4 linked regions of the Homo sapiens genome follow. The protein of the gene in region 4 purifies or fractionates together with the protein of the main gene of each other region. This does not show direct contact. Each region holds a gene or a part of one and is shown on either strand. Other genes may lie near its edges. The genes, in order: TTC39A, SEC24D, MCCC2 and CARS1.

Evidence for each region.
Region 1: the proteins of CARS1 (region 4) and TTC39A fractionate together in Homo sapiens (co-fractionation; one large-scale study listed by BioGRID). This does not show direct contact.
Region 2: the proteins of CARS1 (region 4) and SEC24D fractionate together in Homo sapiens (co-fractionation; one large-scale study listed by BioGRID). This does not show direct contact.
Region 3: the proteins of CARS1 (region 4) and MCCC2 fractionate together in Homo sapiens (co-fractionation; one large-scale study listed by BioGRID). This does not show direct contact.

The regions. Positions count from the first base shown.
Region 1 is NC_000001.11:51,301,616-51,307,894, reverse strand, and holds part of TTC39A (tetratricopeptide repeat protein 39A), read left to right. Parts: intron 1-1,818; coding exon 1,819-1,918; intron 1,919-2,748; coding exon 2,749-2,814; intron 2,815-4,702; coding exon 4,703-4,811; intron 4,812-5,321; coding exon 5,322-5,389; intron 5,390-5,478; coding exon 5,479-5,538; intron 5,539-6,161; coding exon 6,162-6,279.
Region 2 is NC_000004.12:118,737,176-118,743,454, reverse strand, and holds part of SEC24D (protein transport protein Sec24D), read left to right. Parts: intron 1-2,417; coding exon 2,418-2,514; intron 2,515-2,646; coding exon 2,647-2,792; intron 2,793-4,167; coding exon 4,168-4,306; intron 4,307-5,075; coding exon 5,076-5,194; intron 5,195-6,279. UniProt on the Homo sapiens protein: Component of the coat protein complex II (COPII) which promotes the formation of transport vesicles from the endoplasmic reticulum (ER).
Region 3 is NC_000005.10:71,653,062-71,658,773, reverse strand, and holds the end of MCCC2 (methylcrotonoyl-CoA carboxylase beta chain, mitochondrial isoform 1 precursor), read right to left. Parts: intron 2,032-5,712; coding exon 1,914-2,031; 3' UTR 68-1,913; downstream 1-67. UniProt on the Homo sapiens protein: Carboxyltransferase subunit of the 3-methylcrotonyl-CoA carboxylase, an enzyme that catalyzes the conversion of 3-methylcrotonyl-CoA to 3-methylglutaconyl-CoA, a critical step for leucine and isovaleric acid catabolism.
Region 4 is NC_000011.10:2,999,527-3,004,803, forward strand, and holds the end of CARS1 (cysteine--tRNA ligase, cytoplasmic), read right to left. Parts: intron 3,075-5,277; coding exon 3,015-3,074; intron 2,649-3,014; coding exon of another isoform or gene 2,616-2,648; exon of another isoform or gene 2,528-2,615; coding exon 2,444-2,527; coding exon of another isoform or gene 2,436-2,443; exon of another isoform or gene 2,367-2,435; intron 1,723-2,366; coding exon 1,588-1,722; 3' UTR 1,403-1,587; downstream 1-1,402. UniProt on the Homo sapiens protein: Catalyzes the ATP-dependent ligation of cysteine to tRNA(Cys).

The sequences.
Region 1 (6,279 bases), on a different chromosome or scaffold from region 4:
GGGGATAGTTGCATAATAATGTAAATGTAGTTAATACCACTGAATTGTACACTTAAAATTGGTTAAGATGTTAAATTTCATGATATGTATATTTATCACAGTAAAAACAAAATGAAAAAAAGAGGAAAAGTAAAAAAGTCTTTTTTTTTTTTTTTTTTTTGAGACAGAGTCTTGCTCTGTCGCCCAGGCTGGAGTGCAGTGGCATAGTCTCAGCTCATTGCAACCTCTGCCTCCCAGATTCAAGCGATTCTTCTGCCTCAGCCTCCCGAGTGGCTGGGACCACAGACATACGCCACCCCACCTGGCTAATTTTTTGTATTTTTAGTAGAGATGGGGTTTCACCACATTGGCCAGGCTGGTCTCGAACTCCTGACCTCAGGTGATCTGCCTGCCTCGGCCTCCCAAAGTGCTGGGATTACAGGCGTGAGCCACCACGCCTGGCCTATTTATCATCTTTATCTCCCCATTTAATGTGGCTGCTTCCCTGCAGGGATATTGTGAGCTTGTTACAAGGTATTGCTAGGGTATAATGTACCATATAGCATGTGGACATCATGTTACCTTGGAGGCCTATGCTAGAATTTTTCTAGAAAAACCAGACAAGTGCTCTGGCCCCGTCAGCCTCCCTACCAGCTGCCAGAACGAGGTCACCAAAGCACACACCTTGTCAGGCCACCCCTTGCCAACTCCCAAGGCTCCTCTTGCTCTTAAAAGAAGTCCTGGGTTATTGCCAAGTTCTTCCTGGGAGGTCACCCTGGCCCTTCTTGCCACATCTCCCACTTCACTCTGCCTTAGGTCATTGGGCCTTCCCCCAGTTCTTCAAATATGCCAAGGTGGTTCCGACCTCAGGGCCTTTGGACGTGCTGTTCTCTCTGTCAGAAACACTTTCTGCACCGGGCTTTCTGTACCAGATTTCAGCTCAAATGTCACCTCCTCAGGGAAGCCTTTCCTATCCCCAGACTAAGTCAGGCCCAAGGACTCTTCTCCTTGGAGCCTGTCATCACCCTCATAGTGACTCAATCGGGGGGCGGGGGGGGGGGGTCTGTCCCTTAAAGTGAGAATGCTGTGGGGGCAATGGCTTGGTGGTTTTGGTCCCTGCTGTCTTCCAGTGCCTGGCACAGAGAAGCTTCAAGCTTGCTAATTGAAAGCCTTCAAAATGCTGTCAGCCCAGGAAGGAGGCAGACACATCATTAAAAGCCTCTGTCCTGCCCCAGGTGGCTGGGCTAGGGGCTCTGTGCAGTTGGTAACCAGGAGAAATAGAGTTGAATTCCAACCAGGAGACTCCAGGAAGACTTCCTGAAGGAGGAGGTGTTTTGGTTAGCCCAGTGGTTTTCAGCTAGGGGTGACTTCCCCCTGTGAGACTTTTGGCAGTGTCTGGAGACATTCTGGATGTCCAGCTAGGGAGACGATGCTACTGGCATCTGGTGCTCAGGGGCCATGGATGCTGCTAAACATCCTACAATGCACAGAACAGCTCCCCTGCCACCCCCACCAACAAAGAATTATCCAGCCCAAAATGTCAGTAGCGCGGAGGCTGAGAAAACCTCTTTTAGATAGGATGTGGAATACGAACAAATGTCCAGAAGCTGCCCATGGCTGAGTGTGCCAGGGCCCATACGGCTGAAATTCAGGGGGTGAGGAGTGTGTTATCATGGTGGGAGATGGGGTTCGAAATTCCTCAAATACCAGCTCTCAGGATTACCAGAACTGTATGAATCCACCACCAGGGAGTTTACCTGAGGCCCAGCTGGAAGGGGTCCCAGCCCCTACCCCCCACCCCCAGCAGTGGCTGAAACAGGACTTGGCATCTCTCTGCAGGGAGCTGGACAGCCTTGTTCAGTCCTCACAATACTGCAAGGGTGAGAACCACCCGCACTTTGAAGGAGGAGTGAAGCTTGGTGTAGGGGCCTTCAACCTGGTGAGTGCTCCTCCTCCATTTCCACAGCACCTGGCTTGAGCTCAGTCTCCCCTTCTGTCCCTGACTCATGTGTGGTCACTGCCAAGTGCCCCTGCACCTGGCTGTGTGCTGGGCACCAGGATCCAGAGGTGACCAGACATGTGGCCAGCCTTCAGGGGCTCACAGCTGGGGTGGGGGTGGTGTGGGCGCTGGAGCCAGCTCCAGAGTCCATCGGTGCATTTCTTCCCAAGTCAGGCCAGTAGCTTGAAATCCACCATGGTGGAACCTTCACAGCACCCGACCTTGGCACACACAATAAATCAGGGCTTTCTCTGCCCTGGAGAGCTGCTGGTTAAACATTTACCAGTGTCAGGGAAGGAGACAGTCCTGAAACCAGCTGATGACTTAGAGGGGACAGAGAACTAAGTCTTGTTCCTGCATGGAGTGGGGGAAGGTTTCCTACGGGAGGGGGTGAGCATCTGTGCTGGCTCCTGAAGGATCCCTAGGAGTTTCCCAGCTGGGGAGGGGCTTCCAGGCAGAGGGAGCAGGAAGGCTGGGAAAACTGCCTGATCAAGGGAGGAGGAGCTTCCCAGGGAAGATTTAGCCTCAGGAACCTAGGTGGCCAGGGGTTTCCTGGCTAGGCTTCCTGGCACCTGCCCATGGACCCCTGATATCTTAGCTGCCATCTACTGCCCGAGCTTTGGAAAACATTGGCTAGAGGCTTTCAAAGTTAGAGGGGTGGCCCTCTCCCCTCCAGGTAAAGCCTGTTAAAGAGCTAGACTTGGGACAGTGGGGGTGGCCCCTGCCCACTCTGGGTACCTTCACAGGCTTGATTGCCTCCTTTCTTGCAGACACTGTCCATGCTTCCTACTAGGATCCTGAGGCTGTTGGAGTTTGTGGGGTTTTCAGGAAACAAGGTAACCACCTGCCTCCTAGCACCCCTGACCTGCTCAGCCCCAGAACTGGGGCTGGGCTGCACAGGGTGGGGCTGACAGGCCACAGGGCCTAGGAGCCCATCCTGGCTCAGCCCCTCTCATTGTATGGCCCTGGACAATGCCCAGACCTCCCTGGGCCTCAGTCTTCTCTCTGGACAAATGGGGCTAGTGATCCCTGCCTGGCCCTCCCAGGGTGCAGAGGCTCTGGGTGGGTGTGGGTGTGAAGGGCAGCTCCATCAGTGGCCCAGGATCACACATTCTCTGAGCCTGACAGGTGTCAGGGGCTGGTCCCTCTCTCCCTAGATACTGCCTCACTTTAAGACTTTGAGTAAGTCCTTCCCCCAAGGACCATTTTCTGGTGCTACCACTTCATCCAGCAGATGCCTGAGGGAAGCCCTACTGGGCATCAGACCTTGAGGAGGAACCAGAGAACTCAAGCACCCAAAGACTTTACTGAGGGCAAGAACCTGAGTACCAACCCCAGGTTGAAGGCAGCAGATCAGGGAGGGCTTTCTGGTGGAGGAGGCCTAGTGTGGTAGAAGGAGCACTGGCCTGGAAGTTAGGAGCTCTGGGTCAGTCCAGCCTCATCCCCTTTTCTCTGTGACTCTGAGCAAGTCCCTCTCTTCTTTGAGCCTCTTTTTAGTAAAATAAGGGCCTTGTTAATGGACCAGATAAATGTTTCTCAAACGTGCACTGGCCCTTACTGATATTTGCCACACCCACGGACCTCTCTATTATAATTTATATATTACTTTTCTCAAAAGTGACTCATGACTTTTACTGAAATTGATTTAAAGGAAACATCTCTACACAAACCTCCATATTATTTGGCATGATAAGAACATAATCATAAAAATAAATACCACGAGGGCCCAGCCATCTTTTGGAAAGCCCAGCTAGACTGTGTAGCCCAGGCTCAGCCAGGCTTCCTCTTTCTGAGAAAGCGGGCTTAGGGTGAGAGAGTTCAAACCCCACGAGCAAAGGACTGGGGATTTCTCCTGGGCACCACCAAAGGATAGAAAGATAACAGAAGGGAAAACCCTCACCGTGACTCAGTGTTTCCTGGCATCTGCCCATGGACCCCTGAAATCTTAGCTGCTATCTGCTGCCCGAGCTTTGGAAAACATTGGCTAGAGGCTGTGAAGGTCTCTTTCAGTTTTGTTTCCTTAAGAAAGCGCATGGGTCATGAGTAGGATTTCAGGATGAAGGGAGGACCCAGAGGTGAGGCAGTGTGGCCTGGCCAGGAGGGTTGCGGGACCTACTGTGCCAGCCTGGGCTTCCTCTTTATCTCGAAGGCAGGGGAGCCATGGAGGGTTTGAGGCAGGAGTGAGGCAGGTCAGATTTGTGTTTTAGAAAGAACAAGAATGCTCTGGAGGACAGACAGAGGGGCAGAGACTGCAGGCAGGGAAACAAGGTGGGGGGTCTGCCCCCAGCCCCTCCCCAGCCAGGCTCTGGAGGCTTCTCCCCCAGGAAGCCTTCCCAGGCCCCACCTATGCCCTGAGCCCATGGCTGGGATCATCCACCTCCGTGTCTCTCCTGCTCCCAACCAGACCTTGGGCCCTCAATACCCATCGCAGGGCGGCCAAGCCCGTGACTACAGGGAGGCTGGGGAAGGGGCTGTGGAGAAGGTGGGGGACACCTCAGACCCGCCAAGCCTTTGTCCTGGCCTTGGCAGCCGTGTCCCCTTCTCCCAGGAATGTGCTGGGGCACTGAGGGGCAGCCACTTGCTCAGGGCCACACAGCTGACCTGGCCCCCAGGGTTCCAGTGCTCTTCCGCCCCTGTGCCGGCAGCACTGCCCACACAGCTGTCCAGCTGCCTCCCAGGCCCCTGCCCTCTCTGGGAGCCTCACCCACCCTCCCATCCCCTCAGGACTATGGGCTGCTGCAGCTGGAGGAGGGAGCGTCAGGGCACAGCTTCCGCTCTGTGCTCTGTGTCATGCTCCTGCTGTGCTACCACACCTTCCTCACCTTCGTGCTCGGTAGGTGTACAGGGGGACCTGGGGCCCTGGGGTTTGGTCGTCTCCAAGGGGGAAGGAGAACGAGGGGCTACAGACCCTGTTCATGCCCTGTGGCTAGGGATAGGGGTACTGAAACCAGAAACAGAGCCACATCCACTGTCCTGGGGACTGGCCTGCTGACGCCCACTGCCTCACAGTGTGACTGGGTTCCAGCCTCAGTTTTCTCATCTGTGAAATGGGGGTGGTTGTGCCCACCCTGTAGAGGGTGTGAAGACACTGTGTACAGCACCTTATGGTTCTGGGCACAGCCTTGGTGGATGCAGGCTCCTGGTTATCGAGCCCTGTGAAGTGCTGGGGGCGATATCTGCCCTGCCTTATTTAATCCTCATGTCACCCTAGGGACAGGGAGAATTATCTCGATTTCACAGAGGGGGAGGGGGAGACCCTGGGAAGCCCCTGCTGGGTTGCTGGCAGGATCACAGGAGCCAGGGGTGGTGACATGTTCTGTGTCTCCCCCACCATCTCCTCCAGGTACTGGGAACGTCAACATCGAGGAGGCCGAGAAGCTCTTGAAGCCCTACCTGAACCGGTACCCTAAGGTGAGCCCCATGTGCTGCCCGGTACCCCCAGCCCACAAACACCCACAGACCCCACGGACCCACACGGACTTACATGTGTGTCATTGCAGGGTGCCATCTTCCTGTTCTTTGCAGGGAGGATTGAAGTCATTAAAGGCAACATTGATGCAGTGAGTGATGGGGGTCCGGGCCGGGGCTGGGGATCCCTCGGGGTCTCCCAGACCAGCAGGAAGTCAGGCACATGTGACATACTCAGGGACAGGATAGACTGGGGGCGGGGGGGGGGCCAAGAGAGAACCAACCAGAGAGCAGGGGCAGGAGAGGCCCTTCTGGCAGAGCAGCCTGGGAAGACAAGGGAGGAGGAGGCATTTGTGGTGCCTGGGATTTTGACTGGGAGATATAGGACTGCAGCATTGCAGTGGAGGGAGGTGGAGGGAGGTGCTTGAGGGAGGCAGAGGTTAGGAAAGCCCATCTGTTTAGGGCATGACGATTAGGCTGGAGTCTGGTACCTCCCCTCCATTATAGCTCTCTCCTGCTCTTTCATTTTGTTACTAAAAACCAGAGTCCTAGGCGGGGGCTGTATTTGAGCCCAACGTCATGTAAGACTTAGGAGGTAAAACCAGGACTGGAGGCCAGATCTCCTGGCTCCTGGGGCCCCACCTGAGCCTAGCACAGGGCTGGACCACTATGCCCTGGAGGAGTCCCGGTCTGCTGTGGTGTTGGGAGGTTCGGAGGATGCAGAGGGGTTGGGGCTGGGTGGGCACCCGTCAGGCTGACCAGAAGGTGCCTGCAGGCCATCCGGCGTTTCGAGGAGTGCTGTGAGGCCCAGCAGCACTGGAAGCAGTTCCACCACATGTGCTACTGGGAGCTGATGTGGTGCTTCACCTACAAGGGCCAGTGGAAGATGTCCT
Region 2 (6,279 bases), on a different chromosome or scaffold from region 4:
GACTTGAGCATCTGGTGGAGTTTGGTATCTGTGGGAGGTTCTGGATCAAATCCCTCACAGATAACGAGAGACAACTGTGTGTGTGTGTGTGTGTGTGTATATATATATATAGGAACCATATATATTTATGGTTCGGCAATTCCATACTTCCTAAGTGTTTGGTGATAGAATGAGCTCATTCATCCTCAGAGTCAAATATCAATGTGAGCTTTCATAATGGAGAAAAATATATTTTATGTAAAATATACTTAAGATAATGTTTTTAAAAGTGACTGCATATTTGTTTTAAATTATTGGGATTTTAGGGATCAATTCATTACACTTCTCTTTTCCAAGCCTGATTGAGAGAGATATTCAAGAGACAATCAAAATGTCAGCACTATAATGGGCCTGAGTCTGCAGGCAAGTGGGCTTGCTGATTCACCCCTGAATTTCACAAACTTATGCGCCCCGGCACAGAGTGGGCACGATCTGAGTTTCTCCTGTGGACCCCTGTGCCTTGAAAAAAACACTGTATTGAGGGACAGAAAATATGTGCCTCCTGCAGGCAAGCTGCCTTCCTATGGAGAGGACCCAGAAGAGGCTGGGCTGTGCCCACCCAGTTCCTTTTCCCAAACTTATTAATCAGATGAGTCACTCCCCATCACCTAAGGAGAAGGGGTCAGGGGTGTACCTCTAATGTGTGTGCCTGGGCAGGCGTGGAGGCATGGACTGGGAAGGTGTATTCTCCAACATAAATGACAAATGTTAGTCATCATCTGTTTTTATTAATCATCAATAAAATTATGAATAGAGACTAGTTACATATTTCTTTATAAACTAAGGGACTTGATAAGACCAAAGATTGTAAATGAAATAAAATTGAAAAAGCTTTAACAACTCTTTCTAAGACTTCTGGATAAAAGTATGTTTTTTCAGATACACTCTAGAAAATAAACTTTTAATAATCATACAGAATTCTGACCCTTACTGATTCTACCCACATTCTGGGTATTGAGGTACATGAAGCCTACCATGCTAATCAATTTTAGCTCCTTTTCCAGTTAGGGGGATAAATTTCATCAGAAGCTTTCCCCCCCCCACTTTTCCAAAAAGGACTTTATCATCTTCCATTCCTGGCATATGTGAATTGTGCTGGGGTTCTTGCTAGGTCCTTTGCTATGTACTGGTGTGATCATCTACATGGTAGTGACTTGGCTTCAAAGAGCAGCCTACCAAGTGATGTGTAGGCAGGGGGTGCTCTGTGGTGTAATCATCCAGGCTTATTACTTTTTTTTTTCTATTTAAGTTTTTGAGTTACTTGCCAACCCCATGTCATTTCTGATATAAAAGGATATTTACTTGTACCTCAGTGTATCCATAATTATTACTGATTCTTTCAATGTTACTAAAAAAGAAATGTTATAATGCAGCAGAGGAAAAGCCAGTAAGATGTAAACAGGCAGTAAAATATTTTATAATAAAAGAGTGTTAATGTTGCCTATGCTGCCATTCAGTTGTTTGTTTACTCCAGTTGTTGCAAAACTGAATCCTGCCGTAGCATTTCTTTCTTATCTTCAACAATACAAATTTTAATAGTCTTTTCCATTCAATAACATTGTAAGATAAAAATGATGGTCAAGAACTATGCAGGCACCACCCAGTTGTATGTAAGCAACTAAAGGGATTATTGTAAAGATTGTGTCTATGATCTCCCTCTTTCCTTTCCTCCTTCATTCCCTTCGTGTTTGGGACTGGGGGGAAGGGATGAGATGCGTGCGTCAGTGTCTCTCCTATGTGTCAAGTAGTAGTGAGAATTTCCTAAAGAGTTTCACTGACAGATGAGAAGCTTTAGAAGCTCAGCTAGTTTGTTTCCTCTCTTGGGTGACCTCTGAGCTCAGTATTGTGCACATGTGCATATTATATAAATGTTGCTTAGTTGTGGAATGTGGACAGTTTTCAGAAATACGGTGATCGTAGAGTAGTTAACAGGGCTAGGAGAAGGGGTTTCTACTTTCCCTGACATAGCTTCACAAAGCTCTGAATGTGGTCAGACTTAAAAAGCCCCAATTGCAAGGTCTTTCCCTAGCCTCATTAAACGGGTATTATACATTGGGTCTTAACCTTGTCTCTAACCCTAAGCCACTGAGTGGATCACTTATGCTCTCTTAATTTTCCCATTTGCAATTAATAACCGATTTTCTCATCCAAGTGTTAAAATGAAAGAAAATAATAGATGAGATTTTAGTTTCAAAAGTTAAGAAACACTGTCCAAAAATGCTATATTTTCTTTAACCAAAGAAGCATAATATATAATAAAAAAATATGCTAAATCGGGATTTTAAAAATAATTATTATAACTCAGGATTAAAATGAGAACGTTATTTTAAGTATTTTACTGCCATCTGGTGGACATTGATTAGACTTTTATTTTTTAGATGCACTTGGATAGACAACAATTTTTGAACGACCTCAGAAATGATATTGAAAAGAAAATAGGCTTTGATGCTATTATGAGGGTTCGTACCAGCACAGGTAATTATCATTTATACAATTCTTCGGGTCTCTCTTGAATAATTGTTTCTTTTTCAAATTAATAACAGGCCAACAAAGAAAATAACAGTAGAATAAAGACAAGCAAAATTTCCCTTTTTCCCTTATCTTTAGGTTTCAGAGCCACTGATTTCTTTGGTGGAATCTTGATGAACAACACCACCGATGTAGAAATGGCTGCCATCGATTGTGACAAGGCAGTGACCGTGGAGTTCAAGCACGATGACAAACTCAGTGAAGACAGTGGAGCCTTAATCCAGGTGATTGAAAGTGTATTCCCACCTTTCGTTATTTTAGTTTGTTGCCGACAATGATCAGTGGGGAGACTGAAATACCATCAAATGTGTTAGTCTCTTCATAAAAAAATTCAACTCTTTCTCCAAAGTCAAAAGTCAGTAGATTAGAACACTCAGTTGGGAGGTTTCTCCATACTCATTCATATTTGCTACTTATATGAAGTGACAATTATGTGTCATTGCATGCAAGTCCAGCAAATTTGTGGTAAGTATCACAGGCATCAGCAAACTGACTTCCAACGGTATTCACTTCTGTTAGGCTTCAGCACCTATTCACATCTACCATATGAATATTAATTTGCTAGGGCTGCTATAACAAACACTACAGAATAAGCAGCTTAAACAACAGAAATTTATTTTCTCACAGTTCTGGAGGCTGGAATTCCAAGATCAAGGTTTCTGAGGGCCTAGAGGGAAGGATCTGTTCCAGGCCCCTGTCCTTGGTTTGTAGATGGTTTTCTTCTCCCTGTGTCTTCACATCATCTTCCCTCTGTTACATGCCTATATCCAAAGTTTTTCCTCTTATAAGGACACCAGTCATAGTGAATTAGGGTGCACTCTAATGAACTCATTTTAATTAATTTACCTCTTTAAATACCTCATCTCCAAATACTTAGGTACTAGGGGGTTAGGACATTTGAGGAGCCACAGTTCAGCCCGTAATACGATGTTAAGCAAGTGGAATAGGATTTGGCTTTCTTTAAAGTGAAACTAACTAGAAGCCATAGAGACTGAATTAAAACAAGAAAAACTATGACCACTAGATATACATGGTCATAGTTTCCAAACATTGGCATCATCTTTAAAGGATGAAGAGAGGCTGGCATTAGGTTGAAGAAGAACTTTTAACTAAAGTTTATTTTTTAATCACATATATTTGGTGAAATGCTTCTATCTATGCATTCTTCAAATGTATATCATCAGCATAAGACCTAAGTCCATTGTGAAAGCTAGTTGTATGTTTTTAAGAAAGTGAGCCTTGAGTAGGGCTCTGAGCACATGAAGGTATTGTTTCTGCCCCTGGATCCCTGGTAATAAAACATGAGCTATGAAAAATGCAGACTAGTTGTAGAAATGTGAAATAGATATTTACATGTGAATCACTCAACAATTTAAACCAGTGAAGTGCTACATTGAAACCCAGCAAATGAATGGGTCATTATTCTCCCATATTTCCTGTTGTTCATTCTTTAACAATAATAGAAAAAAAACTGTGGAAAAATAGTTAGAGGTCTTTTATCTATCTGTACACAGTGTTTTGTAAATGCAAGTAAGATCAAGTTAGCTTGGGTGGATATGTTAATCAGAAAAACATGTGACCTCAATGTTGCTTCTACAGTGTGCTGTGCTTTACACGACAATCAGTGGTCAAAGAAGACTTCGGATTCACAATCTTGGCTTAAACTGCAGCTCTCAGCTAGCTGATCTTTATAAGAGCTGTGAGACAGATGCTCTTATCAACTTCTTTGCCAAGTCAGGTAACACTTTGCCAATCCTGAGGTTCAGTAAACCTTGCTTAGTAATTCAGTCAAGATTTGTCAGTAGCTAAAAAGCACTGTAGTTTTGCAACCTTATGGTGGGTAAATTCAGAACTAATAAAAGCAAAGGCTGAGAGAGAATAGTCAGCATTCCTAACTCTAAATTAATAAGTGAGGTAACTCAGTTCAGGGTCTGGCTATACAGACTTACTTAAAGTTAACTTCTGGGGTGGCAGTCTGAGTTGAAATTTAGGAATATGATGCTTAGACCCTTATTATGGTACATGATCATGCCCTCTGACACATTGGGTTAATGGACAGAGACGATCTCTAATGTTAGACTAAACTTGCTTATCCATACCATGATAACTATGAAATAGAATGGGCCCAAGGTGGAATTTTCTTTGGCTTTCCTTGAGAAATTCTACACTAAAGTTTGGAAAAGGTAGCAATCCAGCCCGTAAGAATTCAGGACATCAAAAAATGACAAATTGGCCTGTCTTTTTTTCTGTGTGTACAATTCTAATATTCTGAAGGTAAATCTGGCCAATATAACCTTTTGCTGTAGGTAGGCCAATGTTCTCCATTAGTTAGATCATCATATTTAGTCAAGAGGAGACCATTAGCAAATGACTTGAACAGATTTAAATGCTATTATTCTTGCTGGGTGGTCTGAAGATAATAGCAACTTGTTCTTTTTTGTTTGATTATTTGAAGAGATCAGTGTCTGAGCTAAAACTCATGTCCTTTTCATTGTTTTGTGATGTAGCTTTTAAAGCAGTTCTCCACCAGCCTTTGAAGGTCATCCGGGAAATTCTAGTTAATCAGACTGCCCATATGTTGGCATGTTACCGGAAGAATTGTGCAAGTCCTTCTGCAGCAAGCCAGGTGAGCTACCTATTGCACATAGATGTTAAAGTGTTACAAACGACTACTCATTTCTTCAGCACATAGCTATAGAAGGCTTATGATGTTGCAGGCACTTAGATGCTGTTACAGTAAACAGTGTAGCTGAGAAGATTAAGAATGCAATTTGGGGGGGCTGTGGTTTTTTTTTTTATAGCCAACATTTAAAAATGTGAACAAAAAAAATGGATGTGCATATTCAGTTGACAGTCACTACGGTATGTATAAACAAAAGAATGTTATATGTAAGAAGTGTCCTAATATAAACAGGATTCTGTTTTGTATCCAGAGATGGGTATTTTGTTATGAAATGTGTATGCTTAAATACATTTTAGGCATATTAACAAAGTTGACATGAGCTGATGGCAGTAATAACATTTTATAAACAAATATAATTTATAAATATAAATACAGGAATTCTTTACATTTAAAAGTTATTAATAGGTGTGAAGAGTTTTCAAAGAATTGACTCTCTCCATCATCTAGTAATTTGAAATTTTAGAAGATTCTTTGAATAAACCTCATTTAGTCTCTCTCCTATAAAAGGAAAAGCAGAACCTCAAGTCCACATTTATTTTGCATTTGCTCTCTTGTTCACATTCTTCTCTATGTCAATAAAAGTTAGATGGCATTTTTTATAGCTGTGTATCAAATATGTGAATATAGAATTCCAACTAAAATAGCAATAGATGGGAAAACTTTCTAGTTCATTCATTGTCAAAAGTGAGTGCTGAGAGGACATCTGAAGCCCCACCTAAAAGTAAATCCTCAGCAGGAAAGATAATGCAGATAAATTTTGGGTCCAAATTCTTAATCTGGGCAAAGAAAGAAAACAAACACACTTACTAGATGGATTTTTCATAAAAGTTCCTTTCCATGCTGTCCAAAGTGATTAAATTAGTCATCCATTCTTTTATCTCTTCTGTTGATAATCATATAAGCAACTCCTGAATCTATATGAGTATTCAGTCTTCTTTATTATTCAGAAGATTTGCCATTTTAGTCAACTCAAATATCAGTACTATTTCATAGCATGCTAGTTCAGGTTACACAAAGCCCACCAGGTA
Region 3 (5,712 bases), on a different chromosome or scaffold from region 4:
AATTGACTTCCTGGTACACATTGAACATCACACACAAATGTTTAAAATACTAAATATCACACACAAATGTTTGAAATATTGACTTTATTAGGAAAACATTTGATAGTTCTATTCGGTCATATAATCAATCACCTAATTTTAAAACTATGTGGCCAGAGGACATCAATTACAATATGGATTTTTCATTCATTCAACGAATATTTGAGCACCTACAAGTGCCAGACATTGGAGGTACAGGGTAAACAGGAGGATCCTTGCTCTCACGGAGCTTACATTCTAGCAGGAGGACAATATTAATGTTTATAGGAAAATGATGAGTTTATGACAAAGGAAGTAGATAGTGTTTTACAAGAGCATAGAGTAGGGAAGCTAATCCAGCACAGGGAGGTCACAGAGACATCCCTAAGGAAGTGGAGTTTAAACTGAGAGAAGCAAGTGCTTAAACTGAAGGATGTGTTGAAGAAGAAGGGAGAGTAGAACAATTTGGGCAGAGGGAACCTTATAGACCCTAAGGTGGGAAGGTTCAAAGAACTGAAAGAGAGCTAGAACAGCTGGAGCCGTTCTCCGGTGTAAAGAGGAGTCAAAGAGATAAGATTAAAGATGTGAAGATTAAGATCTTGGTGGCATTCAGGGATTGGCACTTCTACAAGAAATCACTGAAGGGAGTAATCTGACATTACTTTTCACTTCAGGATGGCCATTCTAACTCCAGGGGGTAGACTGGACTAGGTAAGACTGGAGGCAGGTAGACCTCTTCTAAGGCCTGCGATAGTGAAAGACAAAAATAAGTGGGGAAATTCAGGGGATAGTGAAAATCAGTAGGACTTAATGAGCAAGCCAGAGGTTCCTCCACAACAACCAGTACAGATGTCCAGTAGACCTACTGGATATGCAGGCCTGCAGCTCAGGGGAGAGCTGGGTTAAGAACCGTCAAGGCAGTAATCATCTGCATTTAGATGGCGAGTGAAGCCATGACAGGGGCTGAAATGGCCCAGCAAGAATAAATCAAACCATGAGAAACACATACATTTAAGAATAAGGAGATGTGGTCAGGCGCGGTGGCTCACACCTGTAATCCCAGCACTTTGGGAGGCCGAGGCGGGTGGATCACTTGAGGTCAGTAGTTTGAGACCAGCCTGGGCAACCTAGTGAAATCCCGTCTCTGCTAAAAATACAGAACTTAGCTGGGTGTGGTGGTGCGTGCCTATAGTCCCAGCTGCTTGGGAGGCTGAGGCACAAGAATCGCTTGAACCCGGGAGGTGGAAGCTGCAGTGAGCCGAGATCACACCACCGCACTCCAGCCTGGGCAACAGAGAAACACCCTGTCTCAAAAAAAAAATAATAATAAGGAGATGTCATGGGCTCGGGGGAGGGGGAAATGGGGAGCGCTGTTGTTTGAATGGTATAGTTTCAGTTTGGGACTGAGAACAAATTCTGGAGATGAATGGTGGTGATGGCTGCACAGCAGTGTGAGGGCACTTTATGCCACTGAAGTAACAGATGCCTTTCAAAAATAAGCCCGCTAAAATATCACCAAGCATAACCAGCAAAACAATCATTTCAGTGAAAATACAACTTTATATTAATCATCTCAATAATACAGATTACAGAACTGAGTTTACAGATTACAGAACTTTTCATACTTTGTGGGTCAGAAAGGATAACCGTAAATTACTGTCTCCGCTTTATGGGTGGTAAAACTGAGCCACAGAGAAATTTCTCTAAGAAAATTTAAAAGGAATTGATGTTCATTAAATAAATATCCTCACTGATTTTTTTAAGGTAGAAAAGTACAATGCACAGTGTTAAAAAAATTACTGTAACAGCCTCATGTTCGAGAAGTCTAAAATTTTAAGGCTACTACATGTGTTAATTTTCAGTACATGTCCAACAGAAAACATCCTTTATTCCAGTTACATCCTGAAGATACCGAAGTCAGTCTTCTCTATTGGTGCGTTGAGGGCTGCACTAAAACTGAGACCCAAGACCAGTCTGGTGTCTGCTGGATCAATGATCCCATCATCCCATACCCTGACAAAAGAACAAAAAAAGAGTTATGAATTTACCACCAAACTACCATTTATACACTCTCCATGTGCAGAAATGCCAAGGAAGTTTTCCTTCAGGTAATATATGGATCTACTGATTAGCATCCATGTACCATAATCTCACAACAGAAACTACGTTCAAGACAGAGGGGGAAAACGTGGAAAAAAATGATATGACCTTCATCCCAGGCCACCACAGAATGTCATGTCAGGCTTAAGGCTTAAGGAACTACTTTTATAAGAGATCTCAAAGTAACCCCTAATTTGACAATACGTTTACTTATTTCAGGAAAAATTTTCCTATTCCTTTTCTTCCCACACAAATATATAAGCCAAGTTGGTGTATTCTGTCATTAATATGCAGAACCACATATACCCAGGTAATAACCTCAAACTTTACTGGAAAATGTATATTCCCCAACCCCCATCCAAACTCTTAAGAAACTATGAAAATTATTGAATAGGCTTCAGTACATTTTATCTTATTTATTATTATTATTATTTTTGAGATGGAGTCTCGCTCTGTCACCCAGGCTGGAGTGCAGTGCAGTGGCACGATCTCAGTTCACTGCAATCTCCGCCCTCTGGGTTCAAGCAATTCTCCTGCCTCAGCCTCCCTAGCAGCTGGTATTACAGGAGTGCGCTACCACACTTGGCTAATTTTTGTATTTGTAGAAGAGACGGGGTTTCGCCATGTTGGCCAGGCCAGTTTTGAACTCCTGACCTCAGGTGATCCGCCCACCTCAGCCTCCCAAAGTGCTGCGATTACAGGCGTGAGCCACCACACCCGGCCAGCTTCAGTACATTTTATTAATAAAATAGATACCTTCAAATGTAGGTCTTTATTTTTTGCTACAATAGGAAAAACAATAACTTTAAACTGCTTGCAGAAGAAACTTTTAAGTAGAAATTTTAGTTTCCTTCTCATTGACAACCTCAAATGTATAACGAAAAATGACTGAGAAATATTACTTTTTAAAGGTTATTAGTAGGTGGCAGTTTGCTTTTTTTATATAAACTCCCTTCGGTATCTGAACCTGGCATCAACTATTAAACCATTCTTACATTGACAGACATGAATCAAACCTTTGCTCATAAAACATTCATAATAGGGACCCTAAAGTATCAACACCCAATAAAAAGAAAGCCACTCTTGTCATCTGCAACCAGGTGAATTGATTACACTCCCTCTGAAGCCTGCAGCACAGCAAGCATGGTGATGAAGGGGCTGCTTAATAATGTTCATTAAAAAGACTGCCCCAGGTAAGAGGCACTAATGAAATGCCGGATAAAAGTTTGATTATAAAAACAACTGAGCAGAAGCAAATTGGCACGCTACATATGTAACCTATTAGGATTAAGGAAAACATTGTAGGTTTCAGTAACTGATAATAACAAGCTCTGTCTCTGAAAAGACAGATCTAGCCATGTTCAAACCTAAGCAGGCCAGGGAATTTTACTGTGAAGCTGAGATTTACTAAACCCAAGGAAGGTACCATAAACTGGCTTGGAAATCCTTTCAGCTTTGAAAGAAAGCTGCTGTCTCCATGCCACCAGCTGTTTCAACAGAAGGGTTAAACATCTACAGATCTGGCCAGGTGCAGTGGCTCATGCCTGTAATCCCAGTACTTTGGGAAGCCGAGGCGGGTGGATCACCTGAGGTTGGGAGTTCGAGACAAGCCTGACCAACATGGAGAAACCCCATCTCTATTAAAAATACAAAATTAGCCAGGCGTGGTGGCACACGCCTGTAATCCCAGCTACTCGGGAGGCTGAGGCAGGAGAATCCCTTGAACCCAGGAGGCGGAAGTTGCAGTGAGCCGAGATCATGCCATTGCACTCCAGCCTGGGCAACAAGAAACTCTGTCTCAAAAAAAAAAAAAAAAAATCTACAGATCCACAGAAAACTTTACTGTCTGTTAACATTTATTTCCAAAGATAAGTCTCTCTGGGCCATTTACTCTTCTGCCTTGAATGTAATCCATTAAAAAATAATAATAATGTTAGTATGAAAATAATAAAAGATGCAATCTTTCTCAAGAGATGATTTATCTTAGCCAGGGCTGAAAAACAAGCTAACAGCTCACACAAAATACACAATTTTTCAAACTTTAATATTTCAGCTGTCCCTGTGTATTTCAGTCAAAATCTTATGTGGAAAAAAAAAACTATAGAAAAGCTTAACAATATATATTTTATATTTCATCTCAAACCTCTTATACGGCTTTCTATTGCTTCTTTCCATTTACTGGCTACTATATGTCTGTTTACACGATGATAAAATCAGGAACATGTTTAGCTCTCAAAGACTATAAAATATTTTGTTCTTAATTAAATGAATCAAACCACCACAATAAAATATACCTGTAAATTTGTTTGTAAAAATATATATTCAGCAAAAAACCTTTAAAAATTCCCAAATATTGGCCAGCCACGATTACAGGTGGCTCACGCCTGTAATCCAAGCACTTTGGGAGGCCGAGGCAGGATCACTTGAGCTCAGGCATTCAAGACCAGCCTGGCCAACATGGTGAAACCCCATCTCTACAAAAAATACAAAAAAATTAGCCAGGTGTGGTGGCACATGTCTGTAGTCCCAGCTTTGGAGGCCGACGCAAGAGGATTGCTTGAGTCCGGGAGGCAGAGATTGCAGTGAGCTGAGATCACGTCACTGCACTCCAAACTGGGCAACAGAGTGAGACTCTGTCTTTAAAGAAAACAAAAACAAAAACACATACACACACCCAAATGGTATTATTTATCTCCTCAAACTAATTATGTTCTTGAAAATCAGTATGTTTTGTCTTTGTATCCACCAAGGAACCATTCAAATGATTGTAATGGACTCTAACTTTTGCTTTTTTTTTTTTTTTTTGAGATAGGGCCTTGTTCTGTCACCCAGGTTGGAGCACAGTGGCATGATCTCGGCTCACTGCAGCCTTGACCTCCCAGGTTCAACTGATCTGCTTGCCTCAGCCTTCTGAGTAGCTGGGACTACAGGTGCACACCATCACGCCTGGCTAATTTTTGTATATTTTTTGTAGAGACTGGGTCTCACCATGTTGCCCCGCTAGTTTCGAACTCCTGGGCTCAAGCAATCTGCCCGCCCTGGCCTCTCAAAATGCTGGGATTATAAGTGTGAGCCACTGTGCCTGGCCTGATTTTCTTTTCTCTCCCCTCTCCTCTCCAGTTTGCCTTCGCCAGCATAAATTACAACATAAGCTAATTTTACAAGATGCAGAAAGAGTTACTTTCTTTTTTCCATCTGCCCAAGGGATGAAAGGAAGACATGAAGCTTAGATTAGTCTTCGGAATGCAGAACACTAAAGTTGTTGAAGAAAGATGTGAAAGCAGGCACCAGCAGGTCTTCAGCTGGGACAGGCATGATAATTTATTACCTCATTAAGTGGTGTAAGAAAAAAACCGAGCCAACAGCGGCAATGGTCTGTGAGGTAATTATTTGGCGCCGACACACAGACCCTGGCAGTGACTAATCACCTTTCAAACGTACAAGCATACTTGTCAACAAATGCCAGTAAGTGTTCAACCAATCTCATGTTTAAAATGGGGTAAAAACAAAATGATCAAGGAGAGGGGTTTTTAAGCAAAAATTAGAACTTCTGAAGTAACACAGCCAAGCTTATAACTTATTCTCGGCTCCTAA
Region 4 (5,277 bases):
TGTGACGGCCTCCGCTAGGGAGGACGGTGGAAGTCAGGACATGACCTCCGAGGTTAGATCCTAAAAGGCCATATAGCTCCTGTCTCTCTCTCTCTCAGGACTCGCACCTTTGGAGCTATAGGCTGTTGCAACAGAAATCAGCCACCGTGAAGCCGCCAAGCTGGAGAGATCACACACAGGTCTCACAGAGGTAAAAGGTGCCCAAGCAGCCCTAGTGTGGGACCCAGGCACAAACTTAGAGATGACCCCATCTGCCTGCAACTGAAAACCAATCAACTGAGCCCAGTCAATCCAGAGCCATGAGTTATTAACATGATCATTGTTGTTTTCAGCCATGAAGTTTTGGGGTGATTTGTTAAGTGGCAACAGATAACTGGAACATGTTTGTTTTACTTTGTTTGGGGGACTTTTCTTTCTTGCTGGTTTAAATTTTTTTATATATAAAATACTGACAAGGTTCAAAGTCAGGCCTATCAATACCCAGAGACTGTCCTCATTGATTTATAACCTTAGTGCTCCCTGCATAATTGGGTGGGTGCTCTCAAGCTGTGCCAAGCACCCTGCTGATGCACAGACAGGCTGGTTCCAGCCTTTTGCTGTGTCACACACTACTGCAGTAAACAGCATGCGCATGCGGAGGGCAAGGACAAAGAATTGGCGCACCCACAACCCAACACTGCCACACTCCCCATGCTGAGGCTGCTGCCACCATCCACATGCACTGGATGGAGTGTCCCCCCCTGGATGTCCACAGCACCAATGACTGTCTTTTGTCCCGATGGATATGGCCTGGCACCAGCTTCCGCAGGCATGAAGCAGGCTGTGGTTTCTGCTTACGCCCTCCTCAGCCAAGGATGGGTAAGCACCTTCGCGTCTGGGTGGTGATTCTTAGTCCAGGTGAACCAGGTGTGGAGGCAGGGTGGCAAGGACAACACTGGGCACTGGGGACAAGAAGGCCCCTGCTGTGTTGAGACCACCCCCACAACTCACTCATTAGCCATGCAGATCCTGGACTTGCTGTCTCCAGCGGCAGTTCTGGGCAGCTCGCCAGGGGCCTGCCTGCTGAGCCACTCGCTGTGCTGCTGCCCAGTATGGAACGGCTCTAGGAAAACCTGCAGTGTGTTTATTCATCAGAACCCGAGGGCAGACTGAGCGGCCTTTGTCTAGGGCTCAGCAGGCTCTGCCAGTCTGAGCCTGTCTTTTTCCTACTCAAATACCTCCCAATGTGCCCACACACCAGAGATTAGCCGATAGCCATCAGCATGGGGGAGAAATTCCTCGGCCAGCTGAAGCAGCTCAACTGACCCAAGCACCTAAGTTGTGACCTGCTGACCAAGCGGCCCTGGCTGGCCACCAGGCCTCCTGCCAAGTGCTGAACATGCAGAACAAGACAGAGAGGGTCTCACTGTTGAGAAAAATTTATTATCAATGTCTCAGAGCCAACGACGACACGAACCTACATGAACACAACTCTTAATTTAGGACCCAAGGGTGACTGTAAACATGATAGGAGCGCTGGGACATTGTCACTGAGGCAGACAGCAGCCACTAGTCCACAATGGTTTAAAAAGTCAGTCCTGTGCCCCCTCACTGGAAGCTTCCATTCTGGGCCATCTGCAGATATTCCTTGTAGAGCTTCTCCTGAGCCTCGAAGAGCTTCTTCAGCTTCTTGGCTTGCCCTTTGCTGAGCTCTTTGCCCTCCATGTCATGTGTGGGCAGACCCTGAAAACCCAGAGCACAGCGGCTATTGGTCTCCTCTGCACCTGGGTAACCCCAACTCCCCTTTCTTTGCCCTCCCGTCTCAAAGTGTCTATCTCCCTGATGCAGCCATGTCCTCTTGCTTGGACATTCAGTCACCACACTGCTCTGGAGCCAGCACACTCATCTGGCAGTGCTGGCTCCAGCAGCTAAGAATGGGAGAGGGGCGACCAGAGTCTGGGGGTGCTTCCTGCCTAAGGTGAGGGGCACTGTGCCCCTCAGAGCCTACCCATGGCTGAGTTCTGACACAGCTGGCCCAAAGGTACATAGCAAACACATCCAAATGCCAGCAGGGAGGGGCCTAGAGGTTTGGAGGCAGTGGCTGTGAATCGCTATGACAAAGGAAGAAACTGGGGGTAGGAGGCCTATCTGCGCCACGGCACTTCAGCCAGCTTGTGAGGGCCTGGGTGGATCTTGGCCCGGGGCCACAACTCCCAGGGCTAGGGACCAGAGCTCACCACACCAGTGGAGGGGGCCCTGGCACGGGCTTGCCTAGCTGCCTGGGCTGTGGAAGGAGCTCAGTAGTTGGGCCAGGAGGCCCTGGACCTAAAGCGGGTGTCAGATTTGATTCCAAATTTTCTACAGACAGAAAATCTGCTTGTCCAAGGTTGAAAATTCCTGTCCTCCCACTTTAATGTGGTCTGATCAAGTTCTGAATAGAAGAGAAGGATGCTTACATGCTTACATTTTCATCAAACTTGGAGTATTTGTCGGTTTCTGACAAGAACATCTCACTGGGGGGAATCTTCATCTTGGCCAGCTTTGCTGCCTAGAACACGCAACACGGCACAGTCACTGCCCCCGAGCAGCACCTGGGGCTCCGCACTGTGAACGACATCTGCTCATACCTCCAGCCCTCAACTTGCTTCCAAGCCCTCAGATTCAGAGTGCTATGAAAGATGGGAAGGGGAAAGCCAAGGTGGAGGGAACATACAAGGAATTTAAAATTAAACCAGATGTTATTTCTACAGGAATAGTGGAAAGCTTACTAGAAAACCTAATAGTAGTAAGTCTATAAACGCTGTCTTGGAGCTTGTGACCACATGGCACAGCCTTCCCCTTGGCCAGGCCTTCCCTGCACCCCATGTGAGAAGGGCCTGGCAGGCCTTGGGTGGTGGAGGCAGAAAGCGGAGCTCCTTCTGTGAGGGTCTGCAGGGGCCTGGCTAAGGTCCACGGAGGCACAGAGAGCCACAGGGCATGGGGTCAGGGTGCACTCCTGCCCAGTAGAGCCCTCACCCCCAAACAAAATGCATTACTTCTTGTTCCTGTTTCCTCCGGGCCGCCTCCTCTTTCTTCTTCCTCTTCTCCTCTTCAACCTGGAGGGTCAATACAGAGCCAGATGAGACAGGGCTGCCTCAGGCTGCTGGGTCTCTCGGAGTGAGAGGTCTAGCCAAACAAGCCCCTCTCCTAGGGCCTGGCATGGAGGGCTGAACTCTGACCAGGCCCTCCCCACTGTGGGGAGACAAGCCCATGTGCCGGGCAGCACACCGACCCTCTTCCATTCCCTTTGGGGATCCTCAGCGGCACCCCTGGGTGCCTGGCCCTGCCCTAGATGCAAAGGTATGCAGCAGGCAGACAAACAGAACCAATGCTAAAAGATCCAGGCACCACTAACATGAAGAAATGGACCAGCATGGTGAGCCTGGCCCAAGGAGAGAGGATCTGTAAGGCAATGACCAGGACAGCACTGTGAGGGTTATCCTGAGTGGGTCTTGGGGTACCTGGGAAGGAGCAAGAGCGCCAGGGCAGGATGGGGATGGTGGGCGGAGGGCAGCCTTGGGGGCTAGGTGAGGAGACCAGAGCCCACTCCAACCAGCAGGCAGCACCCGGGCAGGGGCGAGGACAGTCTGATGCTGCAGGGAGAGCTTATTAGTGGAGCCAGCAGGCTGGGTGCCGGTGAGGGAAGCCCTCGGTTGCTTTGGGAGGTTCTGGCCTGAGCCATTGCACGAACAGACATGCCCTCCACTGACGGAAAAGGAGCAAGTTTGGGGAGTTGAAAATCACATTTTCACCTTTCCTTTGGACAGCCTAGGTTTCAGATGCTTCCCAGCCCAGTGGAGCTATCAGGTAGGCACGCCCTCCATGGCAGGAAGGAGGAACAAGTTTGGGGAGTTGAAAATCACATTTACTTTGGACAGCCTAGATATCAGAGGCTTCCTGGCCCAGTGGAGCTATCAGGTAGGCAGCTGGGCAAACTGTTTTTGGGCCACCGGCTACAAGATAGATGGTGGAGAAGCCGCAGGACCAGATAAGGTCTCCTGGGGAGGCGCCACACACAGAGCTAGGGAAAAGAAACCAGGAAGGCACAAAGGTCTCAGAGACTCAGGATGGGGCTGGGGCCAACAGGATCGAGCTCTTTCGAGATAGATGGAGGGAGAGCAGGGCTGGCCGAGGGAAAGGGGCTGAGGTGGGGGAGGAGCTGGGCACTGAGCTTGGAGGAACCAGAGACACAGTGCTCAGGATTTCTGCTTTTTCCCTTTAAAAGTTAGTATGTGTTTATGTGCTGGTGGGAATGGTACAGGGAGAGGCAGGACCCCTCCCCCATGGTGCCTCGGGCCTGGGGATGCCTTCTTGCAGCAGCTTGGTGAGGTAAGAGTCCCTTGGTTGGGAAACAGGAGCTACTAGAAGTCACAGGCCACAGCCAAGGTGGCCAGTGGAAAGGCCAGCACAAAGAGTGCAAGGCCTGTGAGGCTCTGGCCGGGCCACCCTGGCGCTCCTCTTGTCTGTTTCCTGCTTCTGAGCACTCTGCCAGGGAGTGCAGCAAGCCAGGGCGTCTGCACAGCCAGCACCAGGCCACCTCACAGCACAGCACGGCAGGCGAGACCCAAGGCTAGGTGAGTGACTGTGATGGAATGGGGAGGGGCCCTGATGAGGCAGTCACACCAGCCAACCTCACAGGGCAAGCCCAGCTCTTCCCAACCTGCCAACCAGGATGGACCTGCAGACCACTCACCACTGTCTAGAGCTTTCCCCAGAGTTCCAGTTCGTTATTCCTCCAAAGCACTGCAAACTCCAGCCACCCACACTTGGATCTGGCATGAGCTCTCCCCTCGTGCCTTGGGCCAGTGCAGGGCTAGGCATAGATGCCTTCCCTGACCTTGTACATCCCATCTATCAATCAACCACCCTGTCGATTCTCCTTCCTCAGTTCCTCCCAGAGCCTCCTTCCTGAGAGCTGTGGCATCCAAACTCGCCCTCCACGGTGGTCTCCTGCTTTAAGCCTCTTGGGGACCCACCTGCTGGTGGCAACAGCCCCCATGGCCCACCTCCCATGGTGTGCACTGGGGGCCCAGGTGCCTCTCATCCTGCTGCCTGCATCCCAGGGTACCCCATGCGCTGTGCCCAGAGATTCTGACATTGCGTTTTTGTTCCTGTTCTTCTGTCCTATTGGGCACCGAGGAACTTGGGCCATCCCTGATCCTGGGGGCGTTGTGGGGTGCAGGTGGGGAGTATGCTGGGAATAGGAGGTGGAGATGCATCAGTGACACGCGCCACTCAGGTGAGGGCACGGTGGGACTG